Homo sapiens: one gene and its partners. The protein of the gene in region 1 interacts with the protein of each later gene in a pairwise test. Each region holds a gene or a part of one and is shown on either strand. Other genes may lie near its edges.

Evidence for each region.
Region 2: the proteins of USP49 (region 1) and PTCD2 interact in binary tests that used the Homo sapiens proteins (3 or more experiments, as listed by UniProt).
Region 3: the proteins of USP49 (region 1) and NAMPT interact in binary tests that used the Homo sapiens proteins (3 or more experiments, as listed by UniProt).

Annotation. Positions count from the first base shown.
Region 1 is NC_000006.12:41,799,091-41,810,012, reverse strand, and holds part of USP49 (ubiquitin carboxyl-terminal hydrolase 49), read left to right. Parts: intron 1-3,001; 5' UTR 3,002-3,029; coding exon 3,030-4,385; intron 4,386-6,002; coding exon 6,003-6,207; intron 6,208-10,074; coding exon 10,075-10,183; intron 10,184-10,922. UniProt on the Homo sapiens protein: Deubiquitinase that plays a role in several cellular processes including transcriptional regulation, cell cycle progression or innate immunity.
Region 2 is NC_000005.10:72,350,058-72,360,979, reverse strand, and holds part of PTCD2 (pentatricopeptide repeat-containing protein 2, mitochondrial), read right to left. Parts: intron 8,340-10,922; coding exon 8,226-8,339; intron 2,778-8,225; coding exon 2,553-2,777; 3' UTR 1-2,552. UniProt on the Homo sapiens protein: Involved in mitochondrial RNA maturation and mitochondrial respiratory chain function.
Region 3 is NC_000007.14:106,258,289-106,269,210, forward strand, and holds part of NAMPT (nicotinamide phosphoribosyltransferase precursor), read right to left. Parts: coding exon 10,866-10,922; intron 10,313-10,865; coding exon 10,176-10,312; intron 6,884-10,175; coding exon of another isoform or gene 6,865-6,883; exon of another isoform or gene 5,378-6,864; intron 5,330-5,377; coding exon 5,104-5,329; intron 3,420-5,103; coding exon 3,300-3,419; intron 1-3,299.

The DNA of each region.
Region 1 (10,922 bases):
GCCCGGCTAATTTTTTGTATTTTTTAGTAGAGACAGGGTTTCACCGTGTTAGCCAGGATGGTCTCGATCCTCTGACCTCGTGATCTGCCCTCCTCGGCCTCCCAAAATGCTGGGATTACAGGCGTGAGCCACCGCGCCCGGCCTATTTTCTTTATTTTTTAATTTTTATTTATCTATTTATTTTTTGAGACGGAGTCTCGCTCTGTCACCCAGGCTGGAGTGCCGTGGCGCAATCTCGGCTCACTGCAAGTTCCACCTCCCGGGTTCACGCCATTCTCCTGCCTCAGCCTCCTGAGTAGGTTGGGACCACAGGCGCCCACCACCACGCCTGGCTAATTTTTTGTATTTTTAGTAGAGTTGGGGTTTCACCGCGTTAGGCAGGATGGTCTCGATCTCCTGACCTTGTGATCCTCCCGCCTCGGACTCCCAAAGTGCTAGGATTACAGGTGTGAGCCACCGTACCCGGCCTATTTTATTATTTTCTTTTTGAGACGGAGTCTTGCTCTGTCCTCCAGGCTGGAATGCAATGGCGCGATCTTGGCTCACTGCAACCTCCACCTCCTAGGTTCTAGCGATTCGCCTGCCTCAGCCTCCTGAGTAGCTGGGATTACAGGCGCCTGCCACCACGTCTGGCTAATTTTTTTATTTTTTTAGTAGAGATGGGGTTTCACCATGTTGGTCAGTCTGGTCTCGAGCTCCTGACCTTAGGTGATCCACCTGCCTCGGCCTCCCAAAGTATTGGGATTACAGGCATGAGCCACCGCACCTGGCCTTTTTTTTTTTTTTAATTTTAAAGAGACTAGGCCAGGTGTGGTGGCTCACACCTATAATCCTAACACTTTGGGAGGCCAAGGCAGGAGGATCACTGTGCCCAGAAGTTTAAGACCAGCCTGGGCAACATAGTGAGATCCCCATATCTACAAAAAATAAAATTAGCTGGGCATAGTGGCATGCACCTATGATCTCATCTACTCTAGAGGCTGAGGTGGGAGGATCACTTGAACCCAGGAAGTGGTGGCTGCAGTGAGCCAAGATCACACCACCGCACTCCAGGCTGGGTGACAGAGAGACCCTCTCTCAAAATATATAAATATATAAGTAAATAGATAGATAGATTAGATAGGACAGGTCTATGTTGGCTAGGCTGGTCTTGAACTCCTGACCTCAATCCTTCCACCTCAGCCTCCCGAAGTGTGCAAGCCACGGTGCCCAGCCTAAGGAATTTTAAGTTCTGGTATTGAGGGGAAAACGCCTTTCAAAGTTCCAAAGATATAAAAGTTTTCTTTTAAAATAGTTGTATAGCAGCCTGGCGTGTTGGCTCACACCTATAATCGCAGCACTTTGGGAGGCTGAGGTGGGCGGATCACGAGGTCAAGAGATCGGGACCATCCTGGTCAACATGGTGAAACCCTGTCTCTACTAAAAATACAAAAAAATTAGCTGGGCGTGGTGGCGCACGCCTTTAGTCCCAGCTACTCGGGAGGCTGAGGCAGGAGAATCGCTTGAACCCGGGAGGTGGAGGTTGCAGTGAGCTGAGACCACGCCACTGTACTCCAGCCTGGTGACAGAGCGAGACTCCATCTCAAAAAAAAAAAAAAAAAAAAAGTTGTATAGCTTCTTTCCCTTGGAGAAATTGCCCACAAGGCTTCTCTGATTATTGAATTGAAGAAGCATTATTGGGAGGGGGAAAAAAAAACATGCTTAGGATGTTCTACTGTTTTAAAAAGCATTTTCATATATATCAGCTGGAAGATTCGTTGCTTTTTTTTCTTTTGTTTCGGTAGTTTGGTTAAATATTATACCAGTAGCCACTTCACCTCTTGTCCTAAGTCAGATTTGTCCAGTTCTTTACTTACCTTTCCTTTCAGTAAAGAAGGTAAAAGTTTTCCCACCCTTACTGCAAGATGCAGATGTTCTTTTCAAAAAGACGGATGTTGGCTGGGCGCAGTGGCTCGTGCCTGTATTCCCAGCACTTTAGGAGGCTGAGGCGGGCAGATCATTTAGGTCAGTAGTTCGAGACCAGCCTGGCCAACATGGTTAAATCTCGTCTCTACTAAAAATACAAAAAAATTAGCCGGGTGTGGTGGTGCGCGCACCTGTAATCCCAGCTTCCTGGGAGGCTGAGGCAGGAGAATCGCTTGAACCAGGGAGGCAGAAGTTGCAGTGAGCTGAGACTGCACCACTACACTCCATCCTGGGTGACAGAGGGAGGCTCGACCTCAAAAAAAAAAATACATAAAAAACAAAAAATAAATTAAAAAACACATATACGGCTGTGCACGGTGGCTCATGCCTGTATTCCCAGCACTTTGGAATGCCGAGGTGGGCAGATCACCTGAGGTCAGGAGTTCGAGACCAACCTGGCCAACATGTTGAAACCCCGTCTCTACTAAAAATACAAAAATTAGCCGGGTGTGGTGGCGTGGCGTCAGTAATCCCAGATACTCGGGAGGCTGAAGTGGGAGAATCGCTTGAGCCCGGGAGGTGGAGGTTGCAATGAGCTGATATCCCGCCACTGCACTCCAGCCTGGGCGACAGAGTGACCCCGTCTCAAAACAAAACCACATATACAATGTTCCTTAGTCACGTCTCATAAAAATGATACTTTGTACTGGTGAGGACTTTCTTTCTCTTATTTCTATCTTATATCATGTTATCTCTGCTTTGAAAAACATTGCAATCGACCTAAAATTGACTTTTTATTTGAGTTTCTTCATCTCTCCCACTGGTATGTGAAACACCATAAAGTTTCAAATTTGTGCTAACCCTTCCGTAAGAGTCTTCCTTTTTAAGTAATTTAACTGTCCTGTAACTCTCTGCCTTTATACCAAATGTGCCTTTTTTTAACTTTCAAAGGAACCAATTTGGAGTTGAAAATGAATGAATCTAGAGTTGAAATATCAATTGCAAGCCTTTTACTTTTTTTTTTTTTTTTAAGGAAAATATTTTTCTAAAAGTGTTTTCTTTTTCTTTTTCTTTTTTGGGGACTCTGTCGTGCCAGGTTGAGAAAGTGGCGACTTCTATAAGACATGGATAGATGCAAACATGTAGGGCGGTTACGGCTCGCCCAGGACCACTCCATCCTGAACCCTCAGAAGTGGTGCTGCTTAGAGTGTGCCACCACCGAGTCCGTGTGGGCCTGCCTCAAGTGCTCCCACGTGGCCTGCGGCCGCTATATTGAGGACCACGCCCTGAAACACTTTGAGGAGACGGGACACCCGCTAGCCATGGAAGTCCGGGATCTCTACGTGTTCTGTTACCTGTGCAAGGACTACGTGCTCAATGATAACCCAGAGGGGGACCTGAAGCTGCTAAGAAGCTCCCTCCTGGCGGTCCGGGGCCAGAAACAGGACACGCCGGTGAGACGTGGGCGGACGCTGCGGTCCATGGCTTCGGGTGAGGACGTGGTCCTGCCGCAGCGCGCTCCTCAGGGACAGCCGCAGATGCTCACGGCTCTGTGGTACCGGCGTCAGCGCCTGCTGGCCAGGACGCTGCGGCTGTGGTTCGAGAAGAGCTCCCGGGGCCAGGCGAAGCTGGAGCAGCGGCGGCAGGAGGAGGCCCTGGAGCGCAAGAAGGAGGAGGCGCGGAGGCGGCGGCGCGAGGTGAAACGGCGGCTGCTGGAGGAGCTGGCCAGCACCCCTCCGCGCAAGAGTGCACGGCTGCTCCTGCACACGCCCCGCGACGCGGGCCCGGCTGCCTCGCGCCCCGCCGCCCTCCCTACCTCACGCAGAGTGCCCGCCGCCACACTCAAGCTGCGTCGCCAGCCGGCCATGGCCCCAGGCGTCACGGGCCTGCGCAACCTGGGCAACACCTGCTACATGAACTCCATCCTCCAGGTGCTCAGCCACCTCCAGAAGTTCCGAGAATGTTTCCTCAACCTTGACCCTTCCAAAACGGAACATCTGTTTCCCAAAGCCACCAACGGGAAGACTCAGCTTTCTGGCAAGCCAACCAACAGCTCGGCCACGGAGCTGTCCTTGAGAAATGACAGGGCCGAGGCATGCGAGCGGGAGGGCTTCTGCTGGAACGGCAGGGCCTCCATTAGTCGGAGTCTGGAGCTCATCCAGAACAAGGAGCCGAGTTCAAAGCACATTTCCCTCTGCCGTGAACTGCACACCCTCTTCCGAGTCATGTGGTCCGGGAAGTGGGCCCTAGTGTCGCCCTTCGCCATGCTCCACTCAGTGTGGAGCCTGATCCCTGCCTTCCGCGGCTACGACCAACAGGACGCGCAGGAATTTCTCTGCGAGCTGCTGCACAAGGTGCAGCAGGAACTCGAGTCTGAGGGCACCACACGCCGGATCCTCATCCCCTTCTCCCAGAGGAAGCTCACCAAACAGGTCTTAAAGGTGGTGAATACCATATTTCATGGGCAGCTGCTCAGTCAGGTATGTGTGTGCCTACCATGACAATGAGAGGCTTGTATGTTAGCTTGGGCTTCCTGTGAGTGCCTTCCCCGGGTTATTGGGCTAATAAGAGTAGCCCACATTTGCTGTGATTATGCAATTTGGAGGGTGGCCATTATACCTTTCATTCTGCTGTACATTATGATGGCCTTTTGGGGAAACTTGCCTAGTGTCTTTCCGGCCAGATTTTTAGTTTAACTTGCCACATCGCTTAATTTTCAGTGAATATCTTTAATTGTTATTGAAGATAGGGGTAATATAATATTCTCATTGTTATAATTAAGTACCCATTGTTGGTGTGCCATCCTTTGATCAATTTGAGGGAACAGAGTTTGCTTGTAACCCTGGTTCCATAATAGTTTGAAAGAGCAATCTCCCTTCTTTACATACAGGGAAGGTAGGTAGCTGGGAGCATGCTAAAGGCCAGTGCAAGCCTCCTTCCTGTTCCCCATTACCTTTTATTTCCTGCATCTTTAGCCATGTAACCTAAGCAAAAATGCTTAGACAGGGCCTTGCGAGAATATGCAGAAAGAGTATTTCTATAGTTAAAAAAAGGCAGGTGTGCCGGGCACGGTGGCTCATGCCTGTAATCCCAGCACTTCAGGAGGCCAAGGTGGGTGGATCACCTGAGGTCAGGAGTTAGAGACCAGCCTGGCCAACATGGTGAAACCCTGTCTCTACTAAAAATACAAAATTAGCCGGGCGTGGTGGCGCATGCCTGTAATCCCAGCTACTTGGGAGGCTGAGGCAGGAGAATTGCTTAAGCCCAGGAGGCGGAGGTTGCGGTGAGCCGAGATTGTGCCATTGGCACTACAGCCTGGGTGACAGATGGAGACTGTCTCAAAAAAAACCAAAAAACAAACAAAAAAACGTGGTGGGGGGTGGGTTGGTGAGCAACTTAAGAGTTTCAGGTAAAACCTCTACACTATGTGTCTTGGTTTTTAGGGCTTTGAAAGAATGATGAATGGGATGGAAAGGGAAAGTTTAATTAGGCTTTTGTTTTTGAGCATGTAAAAGGGGGAGTATTTATCAGCACTTCTTCTGTCTCCCCTCCCCTTAGGAAGAAAGGTGCACCTGGGAAGGTTATAGTGGGAATGGAGGTCTAATCACAGCACTTTGAGGCTCTGCAGACAGAGGGGTTCAGTGTAGGGCTTCTGCAAGTAACAAAGGCAAAAAGAGAGGCATGCTGGGCCCCATGGAAGGTCTGAAGTCAAGAGGAGGAATGCCAGGGTGAGGGAAGCAGGCAGGGACCTGCAAATCTGTGTCAGACTGATCCCTTGAGTGACTGCATGATAACTTGCAGTCTGTACTACTGTACTATTGAATGGTAGAGCATATTTTGGGAGAGGTGAAAAGGGGGGTTAGTATAGTCTCTATGCAGTATGGTTTTTAAATTCCAGCTAGCATCCCATAGTTAGAAATGTACATCAGAAATAATATACTCTAATTCTTTTAAAGTTATGTTTATTATTTTAATATTACTATTTTTTGAAAATTATACACTTAGTTTTGATAAAGTGTGTCTTTTATGAAGCAAGTAAAACTGTACACAGGAAGCATGGAAGTTATATAATCTGTAAATCAATCTTTTCATTCTAGGTCACATGTATATCATGCAATTACAAATCCAATACCATTGAGCCCTTTTGGGACCTATCCCTGGAATTCCCTGAACGCTATCACTGCATAGAAAAGGGGTTTGTCCCTTTGAATCAAACAGAGTGCTTGCTCACTGAGATGCTGGCCAAATTCACAGAGACAGAGGCCCTGGAAGGGAGAATCTACGCTTGTGACCAGTGTAACAGTGAGTGCTGTGTGGAGGAGGGGGCGTAGTGGGGAAGAATAATTGGAATATCAGTTTAAGGTGCTGCTTTGTCCTCTTTAGTCAAAAGTAACACTAATGATATTGAATGGTTCTAAAGCATCTTTTAAAGATCTTTTTCTCCCATTTTTCTAAAAACAAAAAACATGGACTTGTTTTAATTATGTATTAAAAAACAAAACAAGGCTGGGCGTTGTGGCTCACGCCTGTAATCCCAGCATTTTGGGAGGCCAAGGCGGACAGATCACTTGAGGTCAGGAGTTTGAGACCAGCCTGACCAACATGGTGAAACCCTGTCTCTACTAAAAATACAAAAATTAGCTGGGCATAGTGGCAGATGCCTGTAATCCCAGCTACTCGGGAGGCTGAGGCAGGAGAATCGGTTGAACCCAGGAAGCGGAGGGTGCAGTGAGCCAAGATTGCGCCATTGCACTCCAGCCTGGGCAACAGAGCAAGACTCCGTTTCAAACAACAACAACAACAACAACAAATGAAACAAAGACCTAGGAGTTGATTGACCTCCTGATTGACATTAGTTGTCATCTTGGAAGGGATTTTAAAGTTGTGGCTCCTGAAATGGGGACTCTGAGAATGTTAGTACTTAGCTTCTTAGTGCTGTGGGGCTGCTGCTTAAATTCATGAATGTAGAGTCTGACAGTTCTTACTTAATCTAAACCCAGATGGTATAGCCTTTCTGAAGGGTGCGATATCAGAAAAGCAAGCTTTTGTACTGAACTGGTAGACTTAATGTCTGTCAAAAGTGATGCTAAAGATTGGTACAGTGGAACCAAGAAAGCAAGTCTTAAGGTGCATTGCTCAGTGGCAGCTTCATGAAATATTTTCTGCATTTTGTTTTTATTGTTCACATGCCTGAAAAGTTCACATTTCAGAGAGGGTCATACGGAAGTATTTCTGTGTTGTCTGTAATTTTAAAATGGAACTCTTACATATGGTTACAGAGGCATGTTATCAGGGTCCTTCCATCTTGCCACACTAACACTTAATGCTTCTGCTAATCCAGTATGGACAGAGGAAATGCAGAACAAATATGTGGATGCTTATGTTTGGGGTTTGTGGCATATATAGATTTGGAAACTAAAAGTATAAAGTTAATGGACTGTGCAGAGACCTAGAAATCAATTTTCAGTCACATAATAGTTTAGATTACCAGTTTTGAAGAAAAAAAAAATCTTAGGCCAGGTGCAGTGGCTCACGCCTGTAATCCCAGGACTTTGGGAGACCCCAAGGTGGGCGCCACTGCACTCCAGCCTGGGTGACAGAGCGAGATGCTGTCTCAAAAAAAAAAAATAAATAAAAAATAAATAAATAAATAAATAAATAAATAAATAAATAAATAAAATAAAATAAAATAAAATAAAAAATAAAATAAAATAAAATAAAATAAATTGTGGGAAACCTGTTCCGCTCTTTGAAGAATCAGAACAAAAATCAAAAGTCAGGCTTGAGGCCAGGTGTAGTGGCTCATACCTGTAATCCCAACACTTTGGGAGGCCAAGGCAGGAGGATTGCCTGAAGCCAGGAGTTTGAGACCAGCCTGGTGGCATAGCAAGACCTCTTTTAGGGAAAATAAAAACAAAAACAAAAACCACAAAGTTATGCTCGATATCATTTTGCCATTTCAAAACAAAATTTGAAATTTTATACCTGGTTAACTATAGACTCACCTATCCTGTTCCATTTTGAGATACAGAGTCAGGTGAATCAAATTGTTTCATTAGAGTAATATTTAAAAAAAAAAAAACAGTGATTCCTGAAGCCTTTTACTTGTAAGGAACAAAAGAATATTAACAGCTTTAACTCCATCATTTTTGGATATGATAGATTAGGCAAGAAATAACTTTTGTTTATCTTTACAAGAAAGGATTGTTCTTTGGTTGTCAGATATGCCAATTTATCAGGATTTCTCTAGGCAAGTACAAATAATGGCAGAGAAGGAAACCTATGGTGAGGGGATGAGATGCATTGATCTGTTGCCTGTGAAGTTTCAAAACTGTCAGTCTTCTACCTGTCTTCCTGGCCAGCTTAATGAAATGGAGACAGAACTGATCAATCTCAGTTGAATCAGTAATTTCTTTTTCTTTGTGAATTTCATTTTAGGGAAACAAAGCCTGACTCTATATTGTCTTCATCTTAGCTCACATACTCCCTCTGCTGAAGGTGGCAGTCACTGCCAGGATTCCTAGCCAGAGCTGCAGTAATTTTCAAAAAAATGGTGAATAGGAATATAAAATAAGGCCAAGCCCCTCTGTGAATTCCATTTCTGTTCATGCCCCCACGTATTGTGACGACTACACCCTGGTAAAAGCTTCTCCTATGGCACACTCATTCTGATGCAGTCTATTATGAGAAGTTACACCTCCACATCCTATTGTCACAGAAAGCTCTGTGATACATCATCTGGCTGTGATTTGCTACCTTTCATGAGTAGTACAGACAGGACTTGGAATCAGATGCCCAGCTGCTCTTCAAACACTGAGCCCATGATATCAACAGCTCAAGACAATTAACAGGGACTGCAGTAGACCACTAATTTTCTACTCTCATCCATTTACCAATTTAATATAACAAAACAGTCATCAGTAAATGGTTACAGGAAAGGCTTCTGATAGAAACTAAGAGAACTCTATTTCCATTATTTATTTGCTGAAATTTAGAAATGCATTTCCTCAAGGCTGGGCACAGTGGGCTCACACCCATAATCCCAACACTTTGGGAGGCCAAGGTGGGAGGACTGCTTGAAGCCAGGACTTCGAGAAATGCATTTCCCCCACAGTTAGAAACAAAATTAGAGACTGATCACTGGTTCTGCTTTGGAGTAGATGAATTTAGCCTACCTGTCAGCTTTGTCCTTGCATGTCCAGCAATGTGCTTTTATCTAGGAAATATGTTTCAAAAACTACGCACAGCATAAAAATATAAAACAGTTTATTTTCTAAATGTTTGAATATGCCATAAGCAAATCATGCTAAAGAAAAAAATGTGTTTAAATACTCTATCATTTAGTAATCTTATCCTTTTTTTCCTAAGCCTGAAAGATATGCATTATTTCCTATTTTACTGGTGAGGAAACTGAGGTTCAGAGTTTTGAATAACTTATCCATTAGCACACAACTAGTTGTGAGCAGGAAGTAGAATTAGGCTTACCTAGTGCAAACAAAAAGCTTTTTAAAATCATATTGTGGGGTATCATAATTGAAGTTATAAGCCATTGTGAAGACATGGAACCTTAACATATGCTTCTACTCTATGTGCTTGCTGCTGCACGTTCCATTATATTCCATTATACGCAAAGTTGCTGATGGCAAAAATTGGAAAGATTTGAGTTGCTTGTAACAGTCGACCCAAATAACAATGACTTAAAATGAGAGATTTTATTGTTCTGTTACATAAAACAAGTCTGAAGGACATTCAGGGCCAGCATGGTGGCTGCATGGTCATCAGTGACCCAAGCTATTTCTGTTTTCTGTTTTACTATCCCATTGCAAGACTTCTGTCTTCAAAGTTACCTTTTGGTCCAGGAGGAATTCCAGCAGTTTCAGATAGTGGGAAGGCCAAAGGGATGTGCCTTACAACTGAGTCAGCCCTGTCTAAGCAGAGTCCCACACAGTCATTCCTTTCATCTTAGCCAGAACTTCCATGGCCACACCATGCAGGCGTGTGAAGCTGGGAAATGCAGTCATAAAGAGTGTCACATTGCGCCCCCCAAAAAATTGAGGTTCAGATACTGAGAAATATGGAGAATGCATATTGAATGGCAAGTCACTGTCTCTGCCATAGCTAGAAAAAACTCCTCACAACCTATGTCTTATACCTTCCCAAACCACATAGGCAAACGACGAAAATCCAATCCCAAACCCCTTGTTCTGAGTGAAGCTAGAAAGCAGTTAATGATCTACAGACTACCTCAGGTTCTCCGGCTGCACCTTAAAAGATTCAGGTGAGCTTGCTGTGGGAGTCCCAGCTGGGTGAGAGCTGTGGGAATAGCTGCTCCAAAGGCTTTGGTGAGGGCAAATGTCTTCTATGGTGTTGGGAGGGGAAGCCTGTTCACTTGAGACCTCGTGTTTTCCATGGAGATTAAACTGTTCACATCCACTAAGGCAAATTGATGTGGGAGCCCAGCAGGACTGGGCTTTTGCTCTCATGCTCCTGTGTAATTAATTATCCAGCCTGCACTGGGTGTCTGTGCTTAAAGATTTTCTAGCCTGGCTTGGACTTATGTAGATTCATCTTCAGGATGAAGTATAAAATAATCTGCAAAAGAAGCACAGGCAGGAAACTACAAAAAGACTGTTGCTTGAATTGCTTGTTTAGGGATCTCTAGGTTTAGAGTACTTCATGGAACATTAACAGCAAATAAATGGGCCAGGCGCAGTGGCTCATGACTGTAACCCTAGAACTTTGGGAGGCCAAGGTAGGCAGATTGCTTGAGCTCAGGAGTTTGAGACCAGCCTCGGCAACATGGTTAAAACCCTGTCTCTACAAAAAATGCAAAAATTAGCCAGGCATGGTGGTGTGCACCTATAGTCCCACCTACTCGGGAGGCTGAGGTGGGGGGATCACCTGAGCTCGGGAAGGTTGAAGCTGCAGTGAGCCTTTATCAATCACACCACTGCACTGCAGCCTGGGCAACAGAGTGAGACCCTGTCTGAAAATAAATAAATAAATAAATAAATAAA
Region 2 (10,922 bases), on another chromosome or scaffold:
TGCGGTGGCTCATGCCTGTAATCCCAGCACTTTGGGAGGCCAAGGCAGGCAGATCACTTGAGGATAAGAGTTAGAGACCAGCCTGGCCAACATGGTGAAACCCCATCTCTACTAAAAAAATACAAAAAATAAGCCAGTGTGGTGGCACACAACTGTATTCCCAGCTACTTGGGAGGCTGGGGCATGAGAATTGCTTGAACCCAGGAGGCAGAAGTTGCAGTGAGCTGAGATCACACCACTGCACTCCAGCCTGGGCGACAGAGTGAAATTGTGTCTCAAAAAAAAAAAAACCCCAAAGCAGAAAAAAACAAGTAAATGATGTAGGCAAACTACTGCTTATAAAGAAACATCATTTTTTCAAAGGAATTACTGAGTTTTAAAGAATGAAATGCCTATCATAACCTATACTGAACACTGTTTTATTGGACTTTTAAGACTTTAAAATCATCTATTACTTTGGGGTGAACATTATGCATATAGCTACCTCTGTACTGAGGTTTCTGGGAACAGGTGGAATGGACCAGTTTTTCCAGTCGGCTGGGCAGCAGGGATTGGGAAGCTTGTTGCTATTTACTGCTCACAAAATTTGGTTATTTCGCTAATGAATGGTTGTTAGCTAACAACCAAGGCCACACTCACCCACAGCACTGGAGCCATTTGAACTGTGAGAGTTGGAGAAGATGAAAAGTAAGCTGGGGGGACAGGAAGCATGCCCTATTATTCCCTAAGACTGAAAGTGGAGAAATCCAAGCACTTTTTTTTTTTTTTTTGCATGTGCAAAACACCAGACACATACAGAAACAATTAGGATTCTATGAGGGCAGAGAATTTGTTTCTCTAAATGGGGCTGTTCAATGTTTCACAGAGCACAAGGACAAGAAATTCAATATTTTTGAGCAGAAGGAAGAACTCATTTGTTTTTATAATTCCTTAACTAGTTTCAAACATATTGCATGTACTATGTGCCAGCCACTATCTGCTTGCTTTATATTCCCTATCTCATTTCATCCTCACACCAAGCCTAAGAGGTCGGTACCATTATCCCCATTTACCAAATGAGGAAACTGAGGATGCCCAGGGCCACACAGTAATGGGGGCCCTTAGTATTCTGTTTCTTAAGAGCTGCTCCTTTTTCCCCTCTGAAAAGAGATAATGTGGTACAGTGGGAAGGATACTAGACTAGGAATCTGGATTCTAATCTCAGCTCTACCACAAATCAATTATACCAATGTGCGACTCTCATATGCGGATCCTGTCCTCAGGTGGGATTGTGATCTCAGACCTGGATTCAGCAAACACCTGAAGCTGTGACTCTCTTACTGGGACACAGTCTACAGTTGAGATTGGGCCTCTCTTGCATGGATCGTTTCCTTAACCTGAAAGATGAAGGAATTAATTAGGAGACTCAGAAGACTTCTCCTAGTCTACAATTTCTGACTCTATAATCCTTGCCTTAGAACAACAACCAAGTGAACAGTCTTAGTTTTGGAGGTGGCAATGAAGAGTCTGCAGCAATCTTGGCAGACAGCTCCTGAGGTCTGAGCAACCCTCTGGGCTTTCTGAAACAAAAGGAGCAAGTGAGGTGGGGTCACTGTGTATCTTCTGCTCACTGGTGACCAGACACGGTAAAATTCAACACATACTATATTTGAGACCATAAGTATGAAGCAGCTTTGAACTGCTCTCATGGCACATTTTTTTTTAATATGAGGCATTCAAGAGAGAAAAATCATTAACAAATAAGATAAACTATAGGACTAAATATTTATTATCCACATAGAAACCAAAGCATTATGTGGTTTTTAGTGGCACTTATTTTGAAAAGCACATGGCTTACCCATGAACAAAGCAGTAGTCATTTAAATTTGGCTTACTCAGCAGTCCTAAAGGCTAAATTCTGGTTTTGTTTGTGCTGCTGAGAAAACAAAACAACCACAATCCCAGCAAGTTTCCTTATGAACCTTATTTCTCTTATTTTTGAGAAAATATGATCCTACTAAACCTTGAATGAAGATTTCAAATCTATATGCAAAGACACATAGGCATTATTGTTTTGCAGATGGAAAAATAAGGGCTCAAGTCATAGACATATATGATGGCAGAGCAATGAGAAAATCCTGGGCTGTTTTCTAACATGGTAAAATAGGGTTTCATACCTCCTGAATTCAGCAAGGATGTAATTTGCAAGTAACTACTCCTTTGAAAATCAGAGTTATCCACACTTGTAGTGAAATTCATTCCTGATGGTGCTTACTGGGTTCCACTCTGGTGTCGGAAGCTGAACCGGAGACTGACCAGGTTCCTTCAAGGATCCTCAGCCATGCAAAAGGGAAGCGCCTTTCTGAGGGAGCCAAGCTTGCATCTAGACCTTCACAGTGGTGCAACATAACTTCTCAGAGATCGGCATGGTACCATTCAGTGAATTTGGGAATTTCAGGAGAAGACCAAGTGTCAGCACACTGTCTGCTGAAGTGCGATACCTGGCTTCTTAGGAAAGGTAATAACTCACTAGAAGCAGGCCCCTCAGATCCATAGGTGGACTGAAACCAGGGTTACTCAGCCAACAGGGACTGGCTGAGTGGCTGGAAGGTGCGACGGCTGACCATCCTCTTGTTTAATAGCAACGTGTGAGATTTCCTGTCCCTGGGGGTGTGGCAGAGCACAGCATCCAAAGAATCAGTGGTGACCTGGCCAGTGATGTGCAGTGTCCCATAGATCTCATCAAATTTGGCCACAAGGGCAGGCACATCCTTCACTTTTTCCCTCACTTTGGCCAGCTGGAAAAAAGCAAGAACACATCATTACATCTCTGCAAGATTTCTTCCTTATTCTTACTATAACCCTAAGAAAAAGAAATGGACATGAACAAAAATGTATGGTAGGCCAGGCGAGGTGGCCCATGCTTTAATCTAAGCAATTTTGGACGCTGAGACAGGAGGACTGCTTGAGCACAGGATTTCTAGGCCAGCCTAGGCAACACAGTGAGACTTTGTCTGTAAAAAAATTTTTTTAAAAATTAGTTGGTGTAGTGGGAGGATCACTTAAGCCCAGGAGACAGAGGCTGCAGTGAGCTGTGATCGTGCCACTGTACTCCAGCCTTGGCGACAGAGTGAGTCTTAAAAAAAAAAAAAAGTATGGTATACACCTAAAATCGTGAAAACCAGGGTACTGGGGCACACAGACAGCAGTATTACTATGAGGGATTCCAAAAGCTACACACAAAATTCAAAATTAGTACTTGAAAATCATACCTAATATAAAAAAAGGGGGGTTCAAATAACACATCATATATAATGAAACACACCAAGTAAAGGAGGTCATATACCAGTGGAATCAACTTTGTTCAATGTAATGATTAGAGCAGGAGGAGGCAGGGCCAAATTACATAGGCTTTATATATATTCCACAATAAGTTTTTTGAAATTTATTCTAAAAAAGCCATCAGAGCATCTAAAGTGGGAAATGATCTCATTTCTGTTCAAAAAGTTGCAGAGAATGAACTGGAGTGTACAGAAATGTGGAGACTATTCTGGAGGCCCACACCATAGCCCAGATAAGAAACAATGGTAGTTGAGATTGGGAAAGGTACAGAAAAGAAGGAGAAGTACACTTATGTGAGGTATATTTTGGAGTTTACACTGAAAGGACTTATTTTTGAATGGGTGAAGGAAAGGGAGGTGTCAAAGCTATCTTCTCAATTGGGGCTTTAATAGCTTGATGATGGGTGCTATCATTTCCTGATAGAGAAGACAGGGAGGCGAGATTTGGAAGGGAAAATCAAGAGCTCTGTTTGGACCTGATTGAGACGGCTGTGAACCATCTAAATGGGTATGTCTAGAACGTTGTTGGATATACAAGTCTGGGGCATGAAGGAGAGGTCTGGGCTAGAGGCATACGTAGTAGAGTCACAAGTATATGATGGTATTTAACCCCCAAAATGGGTGAACTAGAATGGAGAATGTGAAGCTGCTTTCTGAATAAAATCAGCATTTTACTTAGTTCAATCCTTATCAAGGGTACAATCTCAACACATTTCTTGATGGAATTTAATTGGGATCAAGCTTCCTAATAAATCCTTTGCCCCTCTTCCACCTCTTCCAAATATATAACACTGTTTGCACCTGCACATCTTCCTTTGAGACAATGGCTCCCAACCATGCCTGCAGACAAGCAGCTTAAGCACTTCTTAATGTTCTTAAAAAAGAATAGCTTGTTTAGTCCTCATGTTCAAGGTGAAAATGACTTAATGTGCAGCATATGGCTTCTAAAAGCAGCAGAGCAAACATGCCAAGCTGGAGGTAATTTTGATCTAAAAACTGTAACAGTTCTGTTACATAACTACAGAAATAAATCAGCAATTATTTTCAATAGTCCTGTGGTGGTATAATAGCACCTATGATAGTTTATAGTCTTATCTCCCTACATAACACTTTTTAAATAACTGCTGGCATAAGCATTAAATGCACTTTGTAAAATGCAGACGTTTACAATATAGGACTCCACTTGCAATCTCACACATATATATTTAGAACTAGCTCAAAAGCTACTGGAGTTATATGAATCAATCCATTTCTCATCAAGCTGTTCCTTGAGTGGTCCCACAGTAACCAGAGGGAAGACACTGAACTAGAGGGTTCATTTTCTAAGTACAAGAGTCTTATATGAGTATTTTTCAATATAAAGTTTGTTCGGGTGCTTTAGCCATATAAATGGGTGACAATGTATTGATGGTTCAGGTCTAAGGAATGGTTGTTAACAACAATGCTGCTGAGAAAATGGAAGTTGGATTTCACATGTACACATACACACGTGACTATGCACTTTAAAATCTGTTCATGCTTCTACTTTCCCTACTTTTCTAAACTTACTCCAAAAGGGTTGGGTGGATCACAGCCTACACAGAGCTAAAACTGCAAATAGAAAGAAGCGTTAAATCAACCATATCCAGTTAGTCATTTTCCTGACAAGCTCCCTTTTATCAGAAGGAAGAAGCCTTTGGGTGGAAGTGAGGAAATGGAACAGGGCTGGGAAGGCGACAGTGTGGCAGGAGGAGGAAGCAGCCACTGCCCTCTAGTGCCAATCCTGCTGTCTCAGCCTTCAGCCTGGACCAAACTATAAAAGAGAGGCAGGAGAAATGAGGGAGGAAGAGAGGACCAACCAACAGGCCACTTGGTTGGTCAAAATGACAATATCAGTATTATTACTAACAATATGATCACTGTCAATAACGTACAATTTCTTTACACTTCTGTTTTTCACCTTAAGTTACATGCTATGAGAGATACACAAATTACTACATCTCAAATGACCTACAAGAATTCCAATTTGTGTACTTAAGCCATCAATGTGACACATGGGTTCATTTGTTTCATTTCACTTTCAATTTTTAGGAACTGTTTTTTCTCTTCATTTTTATTTAACTCTGCTTTACAGTTCTGCAAAGCATTTACATGGTTCCTAAATGAAATACATAAACAAGGTACATTCGGAGAACTCATGTTTCCGTCCCTCACTTTCACTTTCAAAACTTTTATTTCTTAATTTTTTAAAATTAAATTTAAAAAATAATTTGTCAATTACTTTAATTGTCAAATAATAATTGTGTATATTTATAAAGTTCAATGTGATGTTTCAATCTATGTGTATACTGTAGAAAGATTCAGTCAAGCTAACAAAACTATCCATCATCTACCAATGTGTCTTTTTCTGCGGTGAAACATTAAAATATACTTCTTTGGCATTTTTGAAATATGCATAATAATTAACTGTGGTTCCTAAAGACTCAATCAAAAAAACCTTTAGGACTGATAAAGTCAGTAAAGCTGCAGGTTACAAAATTTACATACAAAAACAGCAGTATTTCTATAAAAAAAGATCTGAAAAAGAAATCAACATAACCACTTAAGTTTTGTTTTTTTTATCGTAGTGTTTTTCAAAAACATAAATATATAAAAATAACTATATGGTCCCGCCTTCTTAAGGCATACTACACATACCCATTTGCATCTTACTTTTGTCACTTAAAAACATATTTAAGTGATCCATATAAATGGTAATCCATAGCAGTATATGATGTAGCTGTTCCTCATTTCCTGTCCTTTGTACGAACAGACCCTAATTTGTACAACTAGTTGTCTAGTGATGGAAATTTGGGCTTTTTTCCAGTCTGCTGTTATTAGAAATTGGATTGCAACAAATAGCCTTGTACATACAACTTCTTTATATTTGCCAGTATATTTTTAGAATATACTCCAAGAAGTGGGAGGATTGAGTCAAAGGGTGAAAGTATTTGTAGTGTACCAATCTGTATTCGCTGTAGCAGCATTTCCTCAGATGATAGCGCCCATTTCCTCAGAGCCTCACCAACCAAGTTGGCTGGCAAACTTGCAGATTTCTATTCAAGAGAAATATCATAGGGTAGTTTTATTTAGCATTTTCTTGATATGGGCAAGAGAATCTTTTCGAAAGTTTAAAGGCCATTCACAATTCATTTTTAGTAAATTCTGTCCACATCTCTTACCCATTTTTCTTCAGGGTTGTTGGTTCTTTTCTCAGAATTTTCAAAAAGAGCTTTTTTTTTTTTTTTTTTTTTTTTTTCAGATGGAGTCTCATTCTGTCGCCAGGCTGGAGCGCAGTGGCGCAATCTCGACTCCCTAGTTCAAACGATTCTCGTGCCTCGGCCTCCTGAGTACCTGGGACTACAGGCATGCACCACCACGCCCAGCTAATTTTTATATTTTTAGTAGATACGGGGTTACATTTTGGCCAGGATGGTCTCGATCTCCTGACCTCATGATCCGCCTGCCTCAGCCTCCCAAAGTGCTGGGATTATAGGCATGAGCCACCGCACCTGGCCTCAAAAAGAGCTCTTGAAATATTAGGGCTAGTTAGCCTTTTGTCAGTATGATTAAAAATTGATTACTTACCTCTTGACTTTGCTTGTAGACTTTTTGCCACATGAAAAAACAGGTTTTAACATTTTTATTTAGTCAAATTTATCACTTCTTTTACTGATTTGGATTTTGACTGAAAGCTAAGTTTTTCCACTCCCAGGATATTAAAGAATCTACTAATGTTTATATCTAGTACTTGTGTATTTCAATTTAAAAATTTAAATTCTCATCCATTTGAAATGTATCCTGGTTTGTGGTATAAGAATATATACAACTGTATCTTTTTCTATTGGCTCTCTACTTATCCTAGTACTACTTCTTACTAGTCTATCCACTTAGATTGATTTGAGATGCTTGTCTCTATGTTACACTAAATTTGTATCTGCAATTTGGTCTGTATCCGGACTTTCTATTCTGTCCCATTAGCTGCCCTATTCATGTCCTAAGCCACAGTTTGAATTATAGAAACTTTAACATGCTTTGATATCTGCTAGACCTAGCAACTCTTACTGCCCCTCTTTCACAGGGTTTTTCTAGCTAGTCTTGTTTGTTCTTTCAACTAACCTTTACAGAAAAAACAAAGTGATATTTTTATTGGAGTCATATTACATTATCACAGTAACTTGAAAAAAACTGAGTTTTTATGAGGCTAGGTCTTCTTATCTAAACATATGGTCTGTCTTTTCATTTGTACAGAAGATTCTTTTTATTTTTTAAGATGAGAGATACTATATCCTACTGTTTGCTGACAAGAATGACCCACAGGGAAGGGGATACTGATGATAGCCAAAAGAGTGAGTCAACTTCTGGACTGATGCTGTGGAGTGGGTCAGAGAGGATGGGATCCAGTGCATGACTGAAGAGGCTGGTGTGAGAGATGTATCCAGTCATCATGGGTATATAGGGCAAGGGGCCAGAGGCTCTCTATGTAGCAGTCATGCTTTTCTGATTACTTCTATTTTCTCCAAGAAACAAGAAATACAGTGATCAACTGAGAGTGAAAAGTGAGGAGAAGGTATTGAAGGCTTGAGGGAAAAGGAAAAAGGTGTAAAATCGTCATCTAGAAGAAAAAGAGAGCCAGGGCCCATGAATACAATGTGGAGAAAAGAATAAGGTAAAAGGGAAAAGTTTCCTAGAATTTCAGAGGATATATTCTGTTGGAAGAAAAAAAAATCTTTGCACATATACATGGAAGTCTTAAAACAGGAACAACAGAGAAGCTGCCATATTTGGCAATTTCTTTAAGGTAAGCTTTAGAATTGAGAAATTAGTGGACATTTTTAAGAGTGTCCTTTCACTTTTAAATGATTTCTGCAGCACTTGCATACTCACCACTTCCTCCGAGAACACATGTCTTTTCACAAATTTTGATAAATTTCCTTCTGCAGCATTTTTTAGAGTCTTTATCAGGTTTTCCAACATATTTGACTGGATATGGATTATAATCTGAATATTAAGAAGACACAAGCAAAACCAAGACTGAGTGAGTGTCTCAATGCTGAGAAATGTACCTGGTTAGATAAGCCTTCATTTATAGGCACCTACCCTGCTTTGATCCTACTTCCTAATTTATTTGCTTACACAAGTTCAAAAACGTGCTTTAAATGTACACTTACGAGCCAAAATGTGCTTTCCAATAGTTAATCAAAAACTACAACTTTGCCTGTAATCCCAGCACTTTGGGAGGCCAAGGTGGGCAGATCACGAGGTCAAGAGATAGAGACCATTCTGGCCAACATGGTGAAACCCCATCTCTACTAAAAATACAAAAATTAGCCGAGAGTGGTGACATGAACCTGTAATCCCAGCTACTTGGGAGGCTGAGGCAGGAGAATCACTTGAACCTGAGAGGCGGAGGTTGCAGTGAGACGAGATTGCGGCACTGCACTGCAGCCTGGCAACAGAGCAAGACTCCATCTCAAAAAAATAAAATAAAATACTACAACTTCAAAACTTGTTTACGGGTAACACTGGAGAGGGCAGAGATTTTGGTGTCTGGATACTCGGGCTGAAATCTAGACACTGGCAAGTACCAGCTAAGTGACTCTGGACTGGTACTTAATCTTTCAATTTAAATGCCCTCATTTGTAAAATGGGGAAAATAGATTTAGATCTCACATTTTGGGTTTTATGAACATTAAATAAAATACCAGTATACAGAAGATACTCAATGAACAAAAATACTGGTTTCCTCCTTTCTACATCCTCTAGATTCAGAGGATATGACAATCAATCTCATAAGACTAGTGATATGGTTTGGCTTTGTGTCCCCACCCAAATTTCATCTCGAATGATAATCTCCAGTGTCGGGGGAGGGACATGGTGGGAGGTGATTGGATCATGGGGGCAGTTTCCCCCATGCTGTTCTCATGATAGTCAGTGTGTTCTCATGAAAACTGATGGTTTTATAAGTGGCAGTTGCCCCTGCTCTCTCCCTTTCCTGCTGCCTTGTGAAGAAGACACTTGCTTCTCCTTCGCCTTCCCCCATGACTGTATTTCCTGAGGCCTCCCCAGCCATGTGATACTGTGAGTCAATTAAACTTCTTTCCTTTATAAATTACCCAATCTCTGGCAATTCTTTATAGCAGTGTGAAAATGGATAACAGTAACTGGCTAGGGGCAAATGGTACCTTCAGCGTTTTCTGTTTTTAGGAAGTTGCAGGCACACAGGTTACTGCAGGCACAGAGTGGAAGCTGGCTGGAATGTTAATGAGGCACTCCTATTTACGCTATCTATTAATGAACTTTCAAAACTGGGTACTGTAGTGTGCTTTCGGAATGATACTACCACCTATCTTCCACCAACTTGTGCACAACTATCTTGTGCAACTAACACAAGAAAAAAGAACACATCTCCCCCCAATTACCAATATTTACTAGTATAATTCAAGAAGAAGTTTAAAGAAAGTGAGAATAACTGAGAACTCACCAACCAATGTTACAACCACTGTTTATAATTTGATGTATAAATCTTCCAAATATATTAACTTATCCCCAAAATTTGATTCTACTTTTGGTCAATTACTACACAACAGACATTTATTTCCTCATAGCATTAATATTAGAAAAAAGAAACCTCATTTTTAACACATACATAGCAATTCATCACGGAAATATACCATACTTTATTATACTGAACAATGTGCACATATGTACTTTTAAAAACTGGTAATGTCTTAGACTTGATTCCCAGAAGTAAAATTACCAAGTCAAAGCATAGAGACATTTTTAAGGCTCTTGATCCTTACAAAGATAGTTTTCCTGGAAGAGATTTACCTTTTTTATATTAAACCAGCTATGTTTTCTTACCAGTCTACTTGGCAACATTTTGCATTTGTTGAGTAACTTATCAGGATGAGGGGTTGTCTTTGGTTCGGAAGAACAGAATGAAATGATCCCAGGTAAACTAAATACAAAGAACCCAATTTAAATTCAGTGTTCTAAAGCCCAGGCAAAATCACGAGCACACCCTTTTTGGGAGACAACTTTCCATGCGTCTCTCAAATTTCTGCATGCCTTGAGAGCAAAAGCACTGACTGCTTTTATTCCAGACTATCTTTTCAAGGATGTTTGTGGACAACAAACACAGTGTTGCATCCAAAGCAAAGGACAGGCATGCTTACTGGCCATTATAAGAGATTTGGGTTTCCTAAGCTTAGGGTTCCTCTCTTGAAAGCAACTTCCTATGTGTGCAAGAGGCACATAGAGCTTTTCATGTCTCCCCACAGGAACTGGGGCTCAGGAAACTGATGCAAAGATGCTAATATTCTGGCTACTGCTACATAATAAATTGTCCTTTATTTCTCTGTGTCTTGTATACTCCACTAGCATCCGTGAAACTGGGGCAGGCTAACTCATTAGCTTACAAGTGGGATAAAATCTCTGACTCTTCACAGTTCTTAACACCTTTGTTAATAAAAACCATCCCAGTTTGGTTGATGGTGGTGTCCTCTCAAAGGCAAAGACAAGTCTACCTTGTTCAATGCAGTGCTATGTAGTACAAGGCAACTGGCCAGCCCTCGATAACAA
Region 3 (10,922 bases), on another chromosome or scaffold:
AAGTGAGAAGTATTATGTACAACAATCTTTGGAAAACTACTATAATTTGGGTACTGACCTTACTCTATCTCCACCAAACTCTTTCGAACAGAAAAAAACTTGTGTTTCATAGCTGTAGATACCATCTGAGATTCGTATACATCAAAATGTCAGTGGTTTCTGAATGCAAATGGCCTACATTATGTTAGTGATATTCTACAGAGTATTTTAGGTGTTATGATGAAATTATGGCCCTTAAGAACCTTATTTAGTAAACGAGGCAAAAATTTTAAGACAATACAGGCATACTTTGAAAATACTGTGGGCTTGCTTCCAGACCACTGCAATAAAGCAAGTCACGGGAATTTTTTGATTTCCCATTGCATATAAAAGTTATGTTTATACTACATTGTAGTCTATTAAGTGTGCAATAGCATTATGTCTTAAAAATACATACCTTAATTAAAAATACTTCATTGCTAAATAATGCTAATGGTCACTTGAGCCTTCAGTGAGTCATCTTTTTGTTGGTGGAGGGTCTTGCCCTGTTGTTGATGGCTGCTGACTGATCAGGGTTGCTGAAGGTTTTGGGGTGACTGTGGCAATGCCTTAAAATGACAACAATGAAGTTTGTCACGTCAATTGACTCTATCACGAAAGATTTATCTGTAGCTTGCGATGCTGTTTGGTACGATAGCGTTCACCCACACAAGAACTTCTTTCAAAATTGGGAGTGCATCCTCTCAAACCCTGCTTTGGTTTTATCAACTGATTTTACTGATATTCGAAGTCCTTTGTTGTCATTTCAACGATGTTCACAGCATCTTTGCCAGCAGTAGATTTCATCTCAAGAAACCACTTTCTGTATCCACCCATATGAAGCAAATCCTCATCTGTTCAAGTTTAATCATGAGACTGCAGCAATTCAGTCAGATCTTCAGGCTCCACCACTTCTAGTTATCTAGCTATTTCTACCACATTTGTAGTTACTTCCTCCACTGAAGTCTTGAAGTCAAATCAAGACTCAGTTATCTGTGAAGGTTGGAATCAATTTCTTCCAAACTCCTGTTAATGCTGACATTTTAACGTCCTCCCATGAAGCATGATGTTCTTAAATGGCATCTAGAATGGTGAACCCTTTCAGCTACAGACTTAAGAATATATTTCTTCTTTTTTTTGAGACGGAGTTTCACTCTGTTGCCCAGGCTGGAGTGCAGTGGCGTGATCTTGGCACACTACAGCCTCTGCCTCCCTTCAAGCAATTCTCCTGCCTCAGCCTCCTGAGTAGCTGGGACTACAGGCATGCATTGCCCCACCCAGCTAATTTTTGTATTTTTAGTAGAGACGGGGTTTCACCACGTTGGCCAGGATGATCTTGATCTCCTGATTGCGTGATCTGCCTGTCTCGGTCTCCCAAAGTGTGGGATTACAGGCGTGAGCCACCACACCCGGCCAAGAATATATTTCCTAAATAATAGCATCTGAAATTACTCTTTGATGGATAGGCTGTCGAACGGACGTTGTGTTAGCAGGCATGAAAAACAACATTAACCTCTTTGTACATCTCCATCAGATCTCAGATGCCATCTGCAATGATATTTCGAAACAATCTTTTTTTTTTTTTTTTTTCCTGAGCAGTCGGTCCCAACAGTGGGCTTAAAATACTCAGTACACTATGATGTAAACAGACATGCTGTCATCCAGGCTTTGTTGTTCCATTTATAAAGCACAGGCAGAGTAGATTCAGCAAATTCTAAGGGTCCTAGGATTATCAGAATGATAAATGAGCACTAGCTTCCACTTAAAAGTGACCAGCTGCATTATCCACTAATGAGAGTTAGCATGTCCTTTCAAAGCAGATGTTGTCTTCTCTCTAGTTATGAAAGTCCTAGACGGCACCTTCTTCCAATGGAAGGCTGTTTCCTCTACACTGACAATCTGTTTAGTCACCTGCATCAATGATCTTAGCTAGATCTTCTGGGTAACTTGCAGCAGCTTCTACATCAGCACTTGCTGCTTCATTCTGCACTCATGGAGATGGCTTCTTTCCCTAAACCACAGGAACCAACCTCTGCTAGCTTCCAATTTTTCTTCTGCAGCTTCATCACCTCTCTTAGGCTTCACAGAATTGAAACGAGGGCCTTGCTCTGGATTAGGCTTTAGCCTAAGGAAATGTTGTGGTTGCTTTGATCTTCTATTCAGACCATTCAAACTTTCTCCCTAGCAGCAATAAAGCTGTTTCACTTTCTTATTCATATGCTTAGTGGAGTAGCACTTTGATTTTTCTTCAAGAACTTTTCCTTTGCATTCACAACTTGGCCTACTGTTTGCCTTAAGAGGCCTATTTTAGCTTTCAGCATGCCTTCCTCACTAAACTTAATCATGTCTAGGTTTTGATTTAAAATGAGAGGGATGTGACTTTTCCATTCACTTGAATACTCAGAGGCCACTGTGGGGTTATTAATTGACCTAATTTAAATACTGTTGTGTCTCAGGGCATAGGGAAACTTGAAGTGAGCAGAGAAAGGGAATGGGTAACTGGTGAAGGAGTCACAACACACACAGTATTTATCAATTAAGTTCACTGCCTTATCTGGGTGTGCCCTGTGGTGCCCTAAAACAATCACAGTAGTAACATCGAAGATCACTAATCACAGATCACCATAACAGATATAATGACAAAGTCTGAAATATTGTGAGAATTTACCAGTATGTGTCACACAGACATGAAGTGAATACATGTTGGAAAAATAGCACCAACAGACTTGCTCAACACAGGGTGGCCACAACCTTCAATTTGTAAAAAAATGCAATGTTTGCAAAGCACAATAAAATGAGGTACGCCTGCATAACACTTATACTATCTGGCTAAATCTAATACTGATGACAGTCAATGCTTAATTTAGAAGAGGTGGCAGCTATTCTATAATTTCTGAAAAAGCACCCATTAATATTATGAGTTTTACAGATTTGTGAAGCTCCAGTCTATGAAAACTCAGACCTATGCCAGCAGAGTCAAGGCTTTGTTTTATATTCCAAGGAATATTTCTTGACTGACATTTCCTTGTTTCACAATGATACTTCTTTAGATTCATCATTCAGGGTGGCCAATGACAACTGGAAGAGTAAGTATGGCTTGGCTGGCACCTCTGTATTTTAAACTACTATTATTTCTAAACTTTAAGCAATGCACAGAGATTTATACCAACATAAACACTTACAAAGACTTAAAATTGTATTTATATTGTGTTCTTTATCAAACATAAACAAACTTAATTATAAGAAATGCCTTATTGAAACTTTTAATATAAAACACATACCTCTTGTAAGGTATTAATATCTACTCCATCCCCTTGAATAACTCTAAGATAAGGTGGCAGCAACTTGTAACCCTTTGAGTTCTCAGTAACAGGAAACTTCTTACCTAAAATCTCCAAAACCTATATGGAAAAATACACATGCAACACAAATAACTAAAGCTGAAAACAAGTATAAGAGCTTTTCAAAGTTAAATGATTTTGCTTTGATAATCGAGAATATAAAAATTAACTACTTTAAAAATTTTATAACACTATGTATATGCTCTCTAAAATTTGGTCCAGTGTACTTTAAAGGGTTAAAGTACATTAAAAACAAGCATGTTATTTCCTATGAAGTGAATTCACATCATAAAGTGGCTCAAAACAAGTTTTTCCCCTTAGACCTTTCAAATTATATGGATTCAAGGAAAAAAAAATCCTTAATATTAAATAAGTATATTTTAAAGAAGTATATAAAGCATTATTTAACAAACTCATGATTATACTTTTAATTTGGACTTATTCTGCTTGTGCCCAATGACTTTGGTTTTTGTCTGATATATAACTCCAATATGAATCCAGTTCAATCACAAAGTTCAGAGAAACTGTGAAAGGCAGACACAGCATCTAGAACCCATAGTCTCTAAGTTCTCCTTTGCTCTTAAAGCCAAACTGCACAATACACAAATCATCTTACTCATTCACTAACTACTAAAAGTTTTGTACACCAAATTAAAATTTCTCAGAAAGCTTGGTCATATAAACAAAAGAAATACATTCTCTTCCCACAACAATCATTTCTTTTTCCTAAATAAACTGATTAAAGATTCTAACAAAGAGAAAATTCCCCATTGATGAAATCAGTTTCTCATAACTAGCTGTGTACATTTTTTATTACGTAACAGTAAAAACATGAAACCTATCAAGTTTGCTAAAACCAAATATTGCAGGCTAAGACAAGACTTTCAGATTGGCCTATCATTTAATAGAATAAGAAAAGACCTCCTTAATTCTGTTTCCCTTTCTTAAGGGGTAAGTATCATCTGCTCATTAACTGACAAATGGTGTGGTCAAGTAGCAAGGCTGCAGCCAAAAGACCTACACTGGATATCTGACTCCTTATCTTTCATGTTGTGTGACCTTGAGCAAGTTACTTTAACCTTTTTAAGCCTCTGTTTTTTTCTTCTATAACAGAGACAGTAATATTTATCACTGTTTTTTTTTGTAGAGATTAAATGGCGTATCTTATGTAAATCACCTAAAATATTTTTCTAGTAGTAGGCATCAAATAAGCCTGCTATTACTACTTTTTGAAGAAGATAAACCAAGTCCTTGAACATTAACAACAAAAAGTAACACTGCTACATTATGAATCAACAGTATTTCTAAAGAACCTCCACTTGAAGAGTATTTTTGAATTATTTTTATTCCACATCACCCTGTTCCTATTTCTTCTGTGCTAACAACTTCAAAGGTCTAGCAGTGACTTATGCTGAAAAAGAAACAAACTGCAAATAAGTTTGGTGCCCAAATCATAGGATTAATTAAAATGGCAATGCTGTTAATTAATTTTGCAGGTAAGCAGAAAACAAAATATCTATTCAAATGTCTAATTGACAGTAAAACAATCCATAAGTCTTGGTATCCTTCTGTGCTATTACTGTGTGACCTCAGGCAAATCTATTACTCTCTCTGGGCTGCAACTCTAAAATAAAGGGGACTGGTCCACACAGCTCTGAAATTGTGTGTATATAAATGAAAAGTAGTATTGATGCAGCTGGCCTACAGAGGGATTCTAATAATAAAGTTACATATGAAAATTTACCTTTAACACAGTGTCAAGAGGGTTTCCAGAATCAGGTCTGATTATTAGTGGTGCCTGTGTACTTCTTGATACTATTAAATGTCTTAGATCTTCACCCCATATTTTCTCACACGCATTATAAATGTCATAGCTATCGCTGACCACAGATACAGGCACTGATGAAAACTGTGTTACAATATGTTCAAAAGCATCTTTTTCATGGTCTTTCCCCCAAGCTGTTATGGTACTAGAAAAAAAAATGAAAACACAGATTTACTTAGGCAGACACTTGATCTATCCCTGAATCACCTTTAATCATATCTCATGTTTACTATACCAAACCATCAACATCACAGAGAAGGTGAGTGACTTAGTTTAATGAATATACATCGTAAGGCAAATGAAGTAGCTGGGTCAACCATACCTTACCCAATTAGTTTTTAACGCTTTAAGTAGCCTTACTCCTCTTCAATGGTTAAGTTTCTAACCTCGTATTTTCAACCAATTATCTGTGTGTGTGTGTGTTTTCTGGTATTCCTGAATCTACTCATTTAAAATCAGTCTAACTAAAAAGCACTTGCTGAGTGCCCTTTATACTGTATGTCAAGATGTTAGAATGAATACATATTTCCATTATTTTGTTAGGCAATGAGAGCACCTGGCTCCCTTCTGTGAATTTTTGAAACTATATACCAATAATAGTACAGACATACATTTTGTTTTTTTACCTTTCAAAATCTTATACTTAGAGGCAATTATTTATACTATACCATACATACATATAGTCAACTACCTGTTATATTTTCAAGTGGCTAGTAATAGGAAGTCATGTATTTTGTTTGCAGATTATCTACTACGAATTAATATATGCCCAGGGAATAAGAATTCAAATACTTAGTTTAAGCAAAACATAATTAAGATGGAAAATAAAGTATGAGAGTTTCTATTGGATAAGAATGGTTATAGTGATTTTTGCAATGTCCTTAATATCAGTTCTTACGGGATAGATTTGTATTCAATATGTAATTATAGATTGGGTATCGCTTATTTGAAATGCTTGGGACCAGAAGTATTCTGAATTTCAAATTTTTTCAGATTTTGGAATATGTGCATTATACTTATCAGTTAAGCATCCCCAGTTCTGAAATCTGAAATCCAGTTCTGAAATCTGAAATGCTCCAATGAGCATTTCCTTTGAGCAAAAAGTTTCAGATTTTGGAGCATTTTGGATTTGGGATGCTCAACCTGTGTAAATATTTGTTAATATATAATGTAAATAATTTTAAAAGATCTCAAACAACTTAATTTTGAAAATTACCATTTAATTATGCCAAGCAATTGGTCATTCTCCCTAATTTTCTAGTCCGCCTCTAATCTGTTCTCCTCAGTAAATAATAAAAAGATAGCACATTCATTTATTATAAAGCCCAAGTAGGTATAAGTTTAACTCATAACTGTTTGAAGAGTCAGACTTTATGTCTGAAATAATCACTTTATACAATGTGTGTGTGTGTTTTTTTTTTTAAAGGACTAGACTTAGAACCTTTCCCCATACTGTCAATGGTATACCTGGGGTAGTGCAGCATGCACATTTCAAGATTGTAAAGACTACTACCCGAATCCAAAATTGAGAGAGAACCTGTTTATATAAAACTCATTAGTGAACACTCTTCTTAACAGCTACAGAGGCTGCCAGTAGCTATGATGTCAATTCTCTACTTCATGCATCTGTAGGCTAAATGGAAAATTAAGATATGACTGAAGAGAAGCTCCTCTTCATATTCAGGTCTGCAACTTTTCTCTTTAAAAAGGAGAGAATTAAGATCAATGAATACCAATACTGGAGAACTTTACAACGTATGAATTAACTCCTACAGTTAAGGGGTCACTACTTATAACGTTGTATCAGTAAGTCACCTAACGATCTACTTGTATCATGTCTAGCAAACTTCACTGTCCCCATCTTACTTGCTTTCTCCATGACACCTGAATTTTCCTGATGCTTTCTTTCTCTTGACTTCAATGACATCTCCCATGTTTCACCTTTTTTCCCCTATTTCTATGGTTCCCTTTTCAGTCTTCCCAGATGCTGTGCTCTCCTTCTTTAATCTAACCTGTCAGATGGCAATATTTCTCATAGTTCTGACTTAGGCACTTGTCTTCTGTAACATACCTTGTGTGAAACACTCAAAAGCTTAAAAAAAAAAAAAAAAAAAAAGTCCCTGCATGAGGGTTTCCAGTATCTGTATCTTAGCCTCTGTTTTTCTTCCAGGCTCTGGATCTACTTTGTTAGATAGAAAGTTGAATATCTTCATCTCAGCATCCCACAGATACTTGCTCTGGCACTCTCTGTCTAGTCCAATCATAACCTCTATTCTTCTAGTACAGTATGTGATATATGAAGATCATAAATAATCAATGAATTCTACCAATGCCATAAATCCTAATTTCAAGCACCAAATTAAATTTGATACCTTTCCAAAGTTTGAGAAAAAAAGCTTCTGTAATTAAATATTTTTAGGTGCAGATTCATCTATTAAGATACATACAATAGTGGTAAACCTCTAAATTTATAGAGTTCTCTTATTTTAAAGTTATTTAGATAGTAGCTCATTTATCATCAATGACCTTGTCATGTTGGAGATGTAAAACTTTAGCTCCTCCTTTTGTTTGGTTGGATGGAAGAAATGAAGAACAGAGAGATAAGTGACTTGCCCAAGGCCACCCACTATGTCAGCCGGAAGGTCACCCAGGTTTCCCAACTTTCAGTCCAATCCTCTTTTTGCTATACTACGCTGTTGTTTAAAAGACATTCTATTAAGAACATGTGAGGCATTTGAATATATAAGGAGTCAAATTTTACAAATGCAATCAATATGAGACCATAAAAATAAAATGGATTTTTATCCCTTGCCCACATACAGTATCCTTTTCATTTTAACAAGTCCTAAAGAAGATATTATCCTTGTCCTCCGTATCATGATGTTACTACTTTGAAATAACCATCAACGAAGAGTCTAATATGTGCATACTATGTTAGATTTTTAAAAGATGTATGTACATCTAAGGCCAAACTAAAAATAACTCTTAAAACTTTGTTAAAGACACTCTTATTTTCCCAGTTTCCTAGTCTTGAAAGTTGTATGTAAAAGTGTTCAACAAGGCCTTACTAATACAATGCTCATAAACGTCAGCTGAATCTATTTTCTACTGAGTCCCAACTCAAATTACCAACTTTGAGCAATTTTATCTCCCAAGCCATTGCTCATGTTTACCTATTTCTTTCCATTTATTTAGCACCTTGGTCTGGACTTCATTACCTTAAGACTGCTGGAATAGCTTCCTATAAAGACTACCTTCTGATTTTTCCTTTTTTCAATCCATAGGATAGATATCCTGCTATAAAAATATAAAAAAGTCCCCTAAGATATTTATCTCATAACATCACGTCTTTGCTCAAAAATGTCAGTGCCTGCTTCCATTTGAAAATGCCTGATTTAGAATAGCTAGCATGATGTGCACATAGTTAACATTCAGTGTCAAAATATGAGCGCCCTTACTAACCTGAACCTGTCTTCTCAGTCTCCCCTACGCTCCCTACAAAATCTGTGTTTCAGCCCTTATTCTCTAAACATTCTCCCTCCTCTTTCATTCTTGTGCTTTCATCACAATGCTTGATACAAGATAAGCATGCAATAAATATTTACTCAGAGAATGAATAAGTGCCCAATGTTGGCTATTAAATTTTACCAATCCTTCAAGAAGTGAAGATTTTGTATATTTCTATAAAAGCTTTCTTGATCCTGCTAGTGAAGGAATATGATTCTTCCTCTCCTTCCCTTGCAACACTACAGCATTTTAATTGTACCTCCTTACGAGGAGTTAACCAACAGAGCAGACTATTACTAGTGTATTATTTTCATCCTGAGAATAGGGTCAGTTTTTTAAAAATATCCTTCTAACCCTTGTTGCACCCAGTAGACTGCCTTGCATATGAACACCAGTCAACTAATATGCCTCAAATAGTAGCAACAATAAAGCTTAGCTTGATTCTAAACTCACTGCTGGTTTTAGCACTCTGCAATTTTAAGTATTAGCAGAACTTAAATATTCCCTAATGATTATAGTAAATAATTTTGTTATAAAAGTCAGTGATAAGGTTTGGCAAACATTTAAAAAACCTGATTTACGCCGGGCGCGGTGGCTCACGCCTGTAATCCCAGCACTTTGGGAGGCCGAGGCAGGCGGATCACGAGGTCAGGAGATCGAGACCATCCTGACTAAAACGGTGAAACCCCGTCTCTACTAAAAATACAAAAAATTAGCCGGGCGTAGTGGCGGGCGCCTGTAGTCCCAGCTACTTGGGAGGCTGAGGCAGGAGAATGGCGTGAACCTGGGAGGCGGAGCTTGCAGTGAGCCGAGATCCCGCCACTGCACTCCAGCCTGGGCGACAGAGCGAGACTCCGTCTCAAAAAAAAAAAAAAAAAAAAAAAAAAAAAAAAAAAACAACCTGATTTACTTTTAATAAAGTTAGCTCTAGGACCAGAGCAGCTGCAGTTTAGATTGTAATTTCTTTCTTGGGTAACTGGAGATAGTTTACTGAAAGCAGACAAGGAAGCGTAAAAAGAATCTGAACACCCTTTCTTTCCTCAACAGGTCCTGCTTTCTCATCTACAACTGAAGGTACAGTACAGATGACAATTTCTAGGGCAAATATAGATAAGGTCATGTAGGAGGACAGGGAAAAGGCAAAAAGTGGCTGGTACTTACAGTGAGTGCTTCTAAATTTAATGAATAAAATCTACCTACATATGACAATACAGTAATTGAAAAAAAATTCCTTAAAAGAAAACTTCTATGGCAATATAAGTATTGGAAAAAAGCTCTTAAACTGTTTCTTCTAGCATGGATAAAATTTCTCTGCCTCTCTAAGACTAATGTTTATACTTTTGTATAAATACTGAATTTGTGTTGCTCAAGTTCATGAAGATGTACTGTAGGTACCTGGCTCTGCAGTTAGGTAAAATGTCACTGAGTTACAAATACAAGAGTGAAAAAATTAGTAGTTTTAAAAAATGAACAGAATTTTTTACCTGTGTTCTGCTGCTGGAACAGAATAGCCTGGAACAGGATCTTTCGTTCCATAATATTTTTTAATTAGAGCAAGTCCTGCTACTGTATCTGTTCCTTTGAAGTTAACCAAGTGAGCAGATGCTCCTATGCCAGCAGTCTGGAAAATCAATCATAAACCAAAATCCAAAACAGAAAGAAACCCACATTAATAATACCAGGATGCAGCCAACCACATTTAAGGAATATAGCATAGCTCCCATAAGAATTGTCTTTCTCTTAGGAAAGTATTTATTGTCAGACATAACAGTTCCTAATGACAAAGATTCAGTTTTTCCTAAATATTTTAAAAAATCAACTATTATCTCCTCAAAGAGACCTATTTAACAGTGTCCCACCCCCACTTTTCATCACTCTCTCTTCCCTTACCCTGCCTTGAGCTTCTTTATGGCATTATTTCACATCTGATATATTATGTCTGTTTCTGGCTATCCATCTGTCCATCCATCTAATATATAAAGGACAGGGACATCTGTTGAAGGACATATCCCATGTACCCTGAACACAGTAGTAGGTACTGAATATGTATCTGTTGGTTGAATCTTTGGAATTTTAGAACCAAGATCAATCTCAATAACGTCCCCAAAAGTTTACAGTGGTACTCTAACCAACAATCCACATTATATTAAATGAGGTTGGTTTCAGTTACTTACCTCTTGGGAAGAGACTCCTCTGTAGCCAAAATCATGTAACTTGTATTCCAGACCATC